Regions from separate parts of the Homo sapiens genome. Here region 1 is linked to region 2. The links come from fine-mapping of genetic effects on plasma protein levels. Region 2 holds a variant in brackets. A gene starts in the other region. All regions are shown on their reverse strands. Region 1 holds the start of FABP9 (fatty acid binding protein 9). Region 2 overlaps LOC124902426 (a long non-coding RNA gene).

What was found. PIP is the posterior inclusion probability: the model's chance that the variant is causal. Protein levels are from antibody-based Olink assays in UK Biobank. Linkage for the fine-mapping came from a reference panel and not from the study's own genotypes, which makes the PIPs less certain.
Region 1: it holds the start of FABP9, and the variant in region 2 is fine-mapped to the plasma level of the FABP9 protein (UK Biobank, PIP above 0.99).

What each region holds. Positions count from the first base shown.
Region 1 is chr8:81,459,134-81,464,521 of GRCh38, reverse strand. FABP9 (fatty acid binding protein 9) reads left to right here and starts at 2,943. Exons shown (of 4, transcript NM_001080526.2): 1 at 2,943-3,071; 2 at 5,185-5,357. The coding sequence starts at 2,999. It overlaps LOC101927118 (a long non-coding RNA gene), which reads right to left and starts at 3,064. Exons shown (of 9, transcript XR_001745980.2): 1 at 2,548-3,064.
Region 2 is chr10:52,572,115-52,577,502 of GRCh38, reverse strand. All of the region lies in intron 1 of LOC124902426 (a long non-coding RNA gene), which reads right to left. All of the region lies in intron 1 of LOC105378305 (a long non-coding RNA gene), which reads left to right. Among named protein-coding and RNA genes, the nearest start is that of LNCAROD, 100 kb to the right of the region's middle. The variant C/G (reference allele first, on the strand shown) is at 2,610.

The DNA of each region.
Region 1 (5,388 bases), not on the chromosome of region 2:
GCTGAAAGTTCATAGAAAAATGACATATTGGAGAAATGAGCCTTGAAACTGTCATAAGAACAAGACATGTAACTATTCTATAACAAACTACAGTATTCTAGTTCCTTTACTAGGATTAACATTAGGAACAATCTGATTAAAAATTTTTTTTCTACTTGAGGAAATGGTGTTCACTTTTTTTATATAATCAAACCAAAGTGCCAAAGGCTAGCGGTGGTAGCAACAGAAATAGCAGAGAACTTTCTTAGTTGAGAAGGGAGACTTGTGCTATATAACTGAGAAAGATGAAGAGAGTCTGAGCATCCCTCCACCATCTGATAATGACCAGAATAAAAGGCCTGTCATAGGACCAGGTCAGGAGAAGATAATGTACTAAAACTCTGTCTTTAGTCACTGTTAGAGAGATAAAGAACACTAATGAGAATTACCAGTTAAAAAAAATACTACTTATTTCTTTGGTCACTCATCCATAAAACATTTATTGAACACTTATGATATGCCAGATACTGTCTTAAGGATACAGAAGTGAGTGGAAAATATTTTCTTTTTTTGATATACTCATAGAATAGCTCAGGAGACAGCTGGGAAATAGCTCTTTGCAGTACTATGAAATAAGCTAATATACTTCTCTTAAACATTTATTTCTATCTTCACGCCATGGGGATTATCTAGCTCTGAACCAGTGTCACAGGGAAAGAGATGTTTGAGTTGGTTCAGGAAGATGGGTCTCTGCTGTCATGAGGCCAGCTCTATGTGATTCATGCAACTGGTTGTTGTGAAGGTCCAAATTCACCATTTGGTGAAGCTATTTACAAAGGCGTAGTAATTATGAAGACTTCTTCTACAAGTAACAAAAGCTCAGAGACAAAACTGTTTAAATAAGAATGGAATTTATTAACTAACATAATATAAATTTTTGAAATAAAGTGGCCTTCAGTTCCTTCCACGTTTCTGCTCTGCTATCCTCAGTTCTGGCCCCATCTTTGAGGAGGTAACACAATGGATGCAGCACTTGTAAATATCACGTGAGATAGAAAAATGTGTAGAGGCAAAAGAGAGACTGTCTCTCCCTTTGGTTCTCTCCTAGGGGTGGGGAATTTTACAGAAGCCAGAATTTTTATTTTATTTTATTTTAAGTTCTGGGATACATGTGCAGAACGTACAGGTTTGTTATATAAGTAAATGTGTGCCATGGTGGTTTGCTGCACCTATCAACCCATCACGTAGGTATTAAGCCCCACATGCATTAGCTATTTATCCTGATGCTCTCCCTCCCCCCATAGCCCTGGCCCCAACAGGCTCCAGTGTGCATTGTTCTCCTCCTTGTGTCCATGTGTTCTTACTGTTCAGCTCCCACTTATAAGTGAGAACATGAGGTGTTTTTCTCTTCCTGCGTTAGTTTGCTGAGGATAATTGAAACCAGAAATCTGATGTTAGCTTTTGTCTCATGGGCCAACTGAGTTCTAAACGGACCACAGGAATATCATTCTATGACAGGAGAATCAAAACAACAAGGAAGATTATGCTGATGGGAGACCTTTGCTACACTACCCAGCTGGCCAACAGGCATAGCAATGTATGCTTGCTTTCTTTAAAGCAGAGAGTGCATACACATCTCGAACCAGTTAAGCAAACGTTTAACAACTTGCTCTATATTTGAACATCACCTCTGAATGCACTTTCAACTGCTGAGGCACTTATTTTGAGCTTGGGTCTTAGTTTCCTGAAATTAACTCCAGGATTTTCACTTACCCTGTTTTGCACTGTAGATAATTTAATAATTGTCCCACCCATAAAGATATCACATTATATGTTTCTTCTTTATATGTTTTCATCAAAAGCCATCCTTTATTCCACTTAAGTTATTGTTTTACAGTACCAAAATATCAACCTCCTGTTTATTTTGTTCACAAACAATATTTTCTGAATTAAATAAATACTTCATACAAAGCAGGTAAAAATATAAATATTCTTCTTCTGGTCCCTGACACTAACTTTCCAACATCTTCTAAAGTTAACTGGAGTTCAAAACCGTAATGTAAATCAACAGCTACTGAATCTACTCCTTCTTACTAAACTCAGTACCTGCAAAGTCCACTTCCATTATTGGGGTTGCAGAAGATGGTTTCAGAAGTAATGGCACAGAGATTGAAACCATTTGCTGCCTTTGTCTTTCTTTTAGAATGCAGATTCCAAACATCTTTTTCTATATGAAACTTGCCAAAATTTTTTCTTATAATTTAAAATATCTTTTAATGTAGAGTTTACTTTGTAAGCCTGAAAGACGAATTTTGTAGGCATTCGCTCTGCTTCCTTTTCAGAGCTTAAATCATATACTATTATCCAATGATAATTGTCACCTTTCTTTCCTGTCCTCAATTACCTTCGATTAACAACAATGATAATATATTAATAATACCCTCCATTTCCCTCCAAGCAATTATAGGCATTTTAGTTACATTAACTAATATCAACCCATCAACCCTGTAAGGAAGGGAAGGGAAGATATTATTTTAATGAAGAGGATGTTTGAGCACTGTGACTTACCCAAACAAAAAACAGCTGAGGTGGACCAAGCAAGGATTTCTTGTCTTAGGTAGGAAAACATCTCAGCCAGGTGTTTATCAATTTGTCAGGATATTCCTCCAGGGTTGACTCAGTATTCATTGTTCAAAAAGCTGATGTCTATTGAAGATTGTCTCCGTTCCACAAGTAATATTTGTCAGGTGACTTGGGTGTAAATCTTTTTGCTAGAAGCTAAAATCATTGACCAGAATTTAATTTTACATGCTAATTTTCTGTCTCTTAATTTGGAGGTAAATAAAATGAGTCAAATGCTGGTGCCTAGAATCTTTAGTCTTGCTGCTGTTGCCCATTGGCCATTTCAGAAGAGTCACGTGATGAAGACGCTCTTTAAATTAAACTACTGGCAGCACCGTAATGCCTATATTTCTTTGGTTTTCAATTACGAGTGGCTCTTCTCAGCAAGTGTTCCATGATGGTTGAGCCCTTCTTGGGAACCTGGAAGCTGGTCTCCAGTGAAAACTTTGAGGATTACATGAAAGAACTGGGTGAGAAATACCATTACAAATTTGGAAATTGGCAAAGCATTTTGTGATGTGATTGGGTTTGTACTTTACCATGAATTTTCCTACAATTATCTTCCTTTTGTGATCCTAGGGTATATAGACTAACACAATGTATGCTTCTACTTTTGCTTTTTTAAATTACTAGTAATAATTGTCTCTTTTTGGAAGACTAGGCCCACAGACACCTCTGTCCAGTCATGATCCATATATTTAAGCCCATTTATCCTTTTTGAAAATACTTCACCTAACTTCTAGATAGAATTTCATTTTAGCTTGGTCATTTCATTTAATAACATTTTTCCCAGCTTCAAATTTATAGACAGTAATCACTACCTACAATTAAATTGATCAATTAAATTTGTTTCAAGGTTTAAGTTATAGCTTTAAAACAGCAGTATCAACTAACAAAATTTCTAGTTGGTTAATTTTTAGAGTTCTCATAAATGTGAGAGATATTTTATAAACATGGTTTTGAAGAATTACAAATCTGAAGAAACACAACATTTTTACTCATTGAATGTCTCACCACTGGATATTCCTCAGAATTATAAACCCTACCAATCCTTTAATCTCTAACTCAAGTCATTTAGTTACACATTAATTATAATGACTTGGGTGTATAATAGCTAAACTGTTCTTTACTAATGGAAGAACAGCAATTATTTCATATTTTTCATATTTAATTAAGAGAAACCTCCCTTGTAGTAAACTGTATACAAAGCCAAGGACTTTCTTATCTTTACTTTTTTTTAACTTACATAACATGCTTAATGGATGCTTACAATTATTAATTATGTTTACTCATTCTAGACAATGAAATAACAATGCCTTATCCCCATAATAAGTCAATGTGCTTATAAATGTAATATTTGTTCCTCTGATGTAGTCAATATTCACTTTCTCAGAGGGTCATAAGAAACAAGTTTTTCTGTCTCTTCATAGATTTATAGACTCACTTGTTTTGAATAAAAATTGGGGGGGTATATAAAAAACTTGGGCCTTATGGCCAGAGTAGCACTTGTGTTGACTGGGAGCTGGGTTTAGGCATAATACAAGCAAGAATAACAGCTGAGCAGTTTCTATGTGCCAGTACCATGCTAACCCCTTTCATTTAACCTTTTAAAACATCCGCTGGCTGGGTACAGTGGCTCAGGCCTCCAATCCCAGCACTTTGGGAGGCCAAGGCAGGTGGATCACCTGAGGTCAGGAGTTCGAGATCAGCCTGGCCAACATGGTGAAACCCCATCTCTACTAAAAATACAAAAATTAGCTGGGCATGGTGGCATGTGCCTGTAATCCCAGCTACTCGGGGGGCTGAGGCAGGAGAATCGCTTGAACTTGGGAGGCAGAGGTTGCAGTGAGCTGAGATTGTGCCACTGCACTCCAGCCTGGGCAACATAGCGAGACTCTGTCTCAAAACAAAAAACAAACAAACAAACAAACAAAAAAAAAACTTGCGAGGTCAAGTATACAGTTATCCACACTTTACTATTGAGAAAACTGAAGGTTAGGAGAGGTAAATAATATGCCCAAGCTAGCAAGTGGCCAAGTTAGAGCCTGGGTTTTAACCATCTCACTCTTCTTTGTGATGCAGATGTCTAACACTGCTTCTCTACAGTAAGATGTGTCATATCAGTTCCACAATCTAAATGTGAAATGGAGTTTGATATCAGGACAGAGAAGGAGTCAGCTCTTCTGCCCACCAACTGCAGGAGTCAAGTTTGACAATGGGAAATTCCCAACCAAACCACAGGGCCAGGCTCTAAGTCAAACTCCTCCCGCACCCACAAGGTTATCGTAACACTCCACAAGGTGAAGTGCAAGCATTTGATCTCTTGAAAGGCACCATACAAATTTACATTTTAGAGGAAGTGTAATAGTCTCAGAGAGTGAATTTAGCTTTTCAAAATGTCACATATATACCTTATGACTGGGAGGATCTAGCTCAGCCCTGATATCACAGAAAACATAAAATAAGTTACTATACATTATCCAAAATTTCAAAATAGGTAAAGTAAGCATTCTTTGAAAATTGACTTCCAGAGTGATTGTTAACAATGTCTTAATAAGGTCCAAGGCTATCTCTGTCTTGTAGGAGTGAATTTCGCAGCCCGGAACATGGCAGGGTTAGTGAAACCGACAGTAACTATTAGTGTTGATGGGAAAATGATGACCATAAGAACAGAAAGTTCTTTCCAGGACACTAAGATCTCCTTCAAGCTGGGGGAAGAATTTGATGAAACTACAGCAGACAACCGGAAAGTAAAGGTCAGAACTAATTCTTCCTGGTGTTCAACAA
Region 2 (5,388 bases):
ACCCTTCTCACTAACTCCACTGGATATACCCTGATACACTTAGGCAAATATATACACATACAAATTGGCCAGAACTGGGAAAGGTAGCAAAGGAAACCTCAAATGAGCAGCATAAGACTGAATCTACCTTGCAGCAATTCTGAAGAAAAAATCATTCACAGGAAATATGTCTACTACCTACCTTCTCTCATCACTTATTTTCTACCTTTTCCTTCTTTCTTAATTTTGCTTTTTAAACGCTGGTCTATTCTGCTTTCTCAGCACTTTTGTAAAAAAGCAGTCTTTAGATCACAGTAACTAGAGTGCTTATGCTTGCCTTGGTGTGAAAGGGATTGGAAAAATTTGTAGTTACGAAAGAGGAAAAAAGTTCTATGGAAAGAAAAGAAGAATATAAAAATATGCTCTCCAAAAGTTTTATTATATGTGAAAAAAATATTTATTTTCCTCTCACAACTCATAGTTCCTGTTACTTGTTTCCTATTAGTGAGACCATATACCAGGGGTACCCAGAACCTTAATTTAGAATTAACATGTGCCATAAGAATAATATATATTAATAATATATATTTCTGTTTACGTGGTCCACTAAAATATACATTAATAGGTGTTTTATTAGAACCCTTTTCTCGGAAGTAACAGATCCATATCAAACCAGAATAGATAAAGGGGAGATATGTTGATATATGTAATAAAACCACAAGACAATCAGTTGTGGGAGTAGAAGGCAGTTAGCTAGGCACAAGAGACAATCCATAGAGGGTCTCCATATCTTTCTGACTCTCGCTTCTACTAAGCAACTGGAAGATCTGGTATCCTATGTCACAGACTTATCACCAGAGAGACTGAAAGATACTTTCTATTGTTTATGTTCAGACAATTTTGACTGGGCCTAACCTAACCTGGGACTATTCATTCACTTTTATTGTGTAATTTATCAAATGAATATTTGGAGAATTGATTGCAGTGCAAATGAACACAGCACTATGTTCACCTGATTTTTTAGTTTTCTCTTGAGTTATAATTATTAAATCAATACTTTTCACCCTTAATAATGCAAGCCCATTATTACACAGACTATCTACACTGGGGAAAATGAAGTATTTCAGAAATATAACTCTCTGCTTGAATCAGTATTTCTGTATCTCTTTTATCTGGACTAGGACTACCTCTTGTATTGCTTTAATTTTCACATCTATTTTTAAAAATCAAGAAGTATAGGAAGATTTACACAAAACCCAACCATATAGTAGTAATAAATTTGTTTTCATAGAATTGTTTTTAACTTAAATGACAGTGGCTAACTATGTAATTTGGTTTGCACAATTTCGGAAGAAATTAAGAGAAAACAATACTCAAAATTTTTATGAAAATCAAATCAGAAACCTATTGACTAAAAACCAACAAAATTTGACTTAAAAGAAGATCCTGTTTCCAAGTTAACAGAATGTAACTGCAATTCTCTCCATTTTTGTACTAGCATGGCAAATTAAAAGGTTTTGTTTAAGTGTAAAGGGTGTATTCTTTTCATTTGATATCTGCATGCTACTTTCTGTTAGCCAATTCTAAAGATGAGATAAATAATAAATGTGAGGGACCTCTAAAAATGCTAGGTGAGAAGACAGTATTAGCATATACTACCTTTTCCTTTTTCTTAATTTTGCTTTTAAACGCTGCTCTATTCTGCTAGGAAAAAAAAATTTTTTTTTTAACTGTTGTAGGGAGTGGGGCACAGGAGTTCCTGGCTTCAGACAGAGCACCACAGCTATAGATTTTGATTAATCATAATAACTACATAGTTTCAAGAACCGATTTAAATTTCCTACCGGAGCAGGAAGCAAATTATAAAACTATGCTCATGGACTCTAGCTGTTGAGAAACATTTTTTATTTGTGTTTTGTTGTTGTTGTTTTGCTTTATTTTCCCACAATGTACACTTTGTGTTTGCCCTGGAGCTACATTACAGACAACTTACCAAGTAACTTCTTGGTTGAAGGCTGATCATTTAAGGAAAATGGGGAGAAACCTGAAATATGATGGAAACTACTTCCCTAGTCTCCCAGAAGGGAGGAAACAGATTTGCAAAGGGTGTTTATTTTAATTACTAAATTACCTTTATAGTGACTTGAGGCCAGGGAGGTACTTACTTGCAAAGCTGTAATAGAATGTTTTCAGCAGGAAATCTTAAATAAGGGTAAAACCACTTCAGGACCTTGGCTGGAATTTTGAACTGTGAACATTAAGCAATCAGCAAGAAAATAATATAGCATTATTTCATTGATATAGACTGTGCTATAAATAAGCAGAAATAAAGGAAGGAAACTGTATGTCTGATTGCCTTGGTACTAAATTTCCCCGGCAAAAAAGAAAATAGAATGGGAAAACATAATAATTTGCTTCAAAAGCAGAGCAATAAAGATATTTTGAAATGTCTTATAAAAAAACCTAATCATTAACACTAAAGATCTATTCACACTGGGAAGGGGTAGACTAAGAATAAAAAGAGGAAAAACACATTTTTTCCCTCTTGAGCTTTTTTTAGTCTCCCAGTGCTGTGGAATTAGAGCAGCAAGCTGAAATGATTTATGAAATGAAAAATTCCTGCCCACCCA[C/G]TTCACAGACAATCATGTGCAATAACTACTGTGTTCTGCTATGTGCCATAATATTTAGCTCAGATGTAACCAGAAAATCCCACTACACATAGAAGAGTCAACCATAAAAAGAAACAGATTTCCTTGTATTTCTCTCATGTGTTTGCACACGGACACACCGGAAAATAATATATGCATATTTTTGCACACATCAGTAATTTCCCTTTTATCTTATCCTTCCTTTTGCTTTTCTTTTCCTTTTTTCAGAGAATTTAATTTACTTTTACTTTTAAAGTAATTCCTATATAAACTTCTCACCTCCTTTCTCTATCTTGACCCCGTAACCCTCTTTCCTCTCTAGAAGAAACTCAGAACCAGGTTGTTACCTGAGTAATTTAGCAAATAACTATTTATCTAAGTGGAATGATTGTGCTACAAAAGTTATTTAGTTAAATACTGGTTTTCTTTATATTACTAATTAGGTTTATTAGGTATGTGAATACTCAGGAGAGTATACTTTGGTCTGAAACTGTAAATAGTACATTTGTTTGTGCTATTTTGCAAAGCTTAATAAAAACATGCAAAAGAAACTATGAGTATTAAATTGAGAAATCACCATTAACTGACATATACAAGACAACTGACCAGTTCTTCCACACAAATATACTTAACCAGAACGATATGAAGTATCATGGAAAAATAAATTATGTAGAAGGAAGTCATGTACTTTCCTCTGAGAATACTGTATTTATATTGGAAAATCCTATACACAATAAAACATTGACTATCATAAGACCATTTGTAATCAACCTCTCTAGTAGTTCTGGGAAATGAAGAGATTGTTAAAAACTTGGAGAACTGAGGAAAGTCTGTGGAAACGGTGGAACTTAATATAGGTTTAAAAGACTGTTTTGTATAAGACCTTGTATACCCTGCATGGCTCTTGCCACAATGGATTGCCCAAATTGATAATTATAGCCAAACTTCAGTCTTCCCAGTTAATTATATTTTCCCATGTCCTCTGGATATCTGAGCACACAAGGAAGTTTGAGAAACAACAAAGTGTGGAAAGCAAGAGCAAACCAAGTCTTGTAGAGGAAGTAGTATCTTAGGGAAAAAGAGGTCTCAATTTCCTCTCTGCCATAATCTCACTGTGTTTTGGGGAGGTATTTACAGCAATCTATGTCTCCATATCTTAACAATAGAGATTGTGTTAAGGCCAACGATTTTTAGAAGATGAATGGGTGGAGAGCAAAATGTTTCATAGTGTGGGGGCAGATACTAAATCCTCTGGCAGAGGGAAGTTTCTAACTATTCCAAGAGACAATCTTACAAGATACTCTAAAAAGCTTTTAGTCACCAGCCCCACCCGCCTGTCCCTTCCTTGTCCAACACATACAGCTGGAATTAGGATTACTTATTGTGAAGGGGAGGGGCATAGGCCTGGGGATAGAGTGGAAATTAGAGAATTACTCTTTTATTTCTCATTCCACTTTCTCAGTTCAAAATTTATTTGTAATTCCCTGTATTTCATCTTCAAGAATATTTTTGGGCACAGAGATAAACTCCAGTGTACTTTTGAATGAAATATCAGAAAACTTTTCCACTTGATCTAAAAACTAACTTTGATAATGTTTTATGATCACAGTGCAGAGCAGGTAATTCATGTCTACATGATCTCCTGCTGAATGAATTTGTAAATTGTCATTCTACAGCACACCTTTTAAAGATATCTTCAATCTTTGACTATAGTAAACGTAAAATTGATATTAATTTGTTAAGGATTTTCTCCATTAAAGTCTCTTTCTTTTTTTTTTTTTCTTGTTCCCTAGGTAAAGTGCAATGGTGCTATCTCGGCTCACTGCAACCTCTACCTCCTGGGTTCAAGCGATTCCCCTGCCTCAGCCTCCCGAGTAGCTGGGATTACAGGTGTCTGCCGCCACACCTGGCTGATTTTTTGTATTTTTAGTGGAGATGAGGTTTCACCACGTTGGTAAAGCTGGTCTTGAACTCCTGACCTTAGGTTATCCACCCACCTCGGCCTCCCAAAGTGCTGGAATTACAGGCGTGAGCTACTGCCCCAGCCTAAAATCTATTTCCTGATATTTTTTATTCTTTTCTAGTCAACTAATATTCCAAACTATAACTCTAACTGGACTGGGTAAAAAATAATACCTGAATGCATACTTGCTTTTTTTCCATTGAAAAGAAGAAACAATCAAAATGGATCCCATTCTTATGGAAGCAGGGTATAGAGTCTACCCTTCAGCTTCTGAAAGGTAACACAGAAATAGCAGTAATCGTTGGAAACTTTTCAGTTGCAAGTGATTAACTTCCTACTTAAAACAGCATAACTTTTTTTAAACAAAAATATTTGACAGCCTTTGAGGGCATATCACTGAAAGTCCAGGGATACATTTCTTTAGTATGTCTGGGATCCAAGGTGTCACATAATTCCATTAGGATATTATATCTTTCTATTCAATGACTCTTTTTATGTTGCTGGGTGATGGCTGACAACCAAATTTTGACATCGGATTACAGGGAGTGTCTTCCCTAAGAGCTCTGGATCAGATATTCTTACTGTCTCATGTGCCCACCCTGTGGCTTAGAAGAAGATTCAGCTTCACTCCCAACTAGATCATGTAGAATGTTTTCCACAAGAAATAAGGGTTCCATTACCGAAAGAAAGAAAGAGAGAGAAGAGAGGAAAACAGTACGGTATAAGTCTACTACATAAGGGCGCATTCCCAAATATGCTGGAATTTCACCACTTAGTCATTGTTAGACTTTGTGGCAG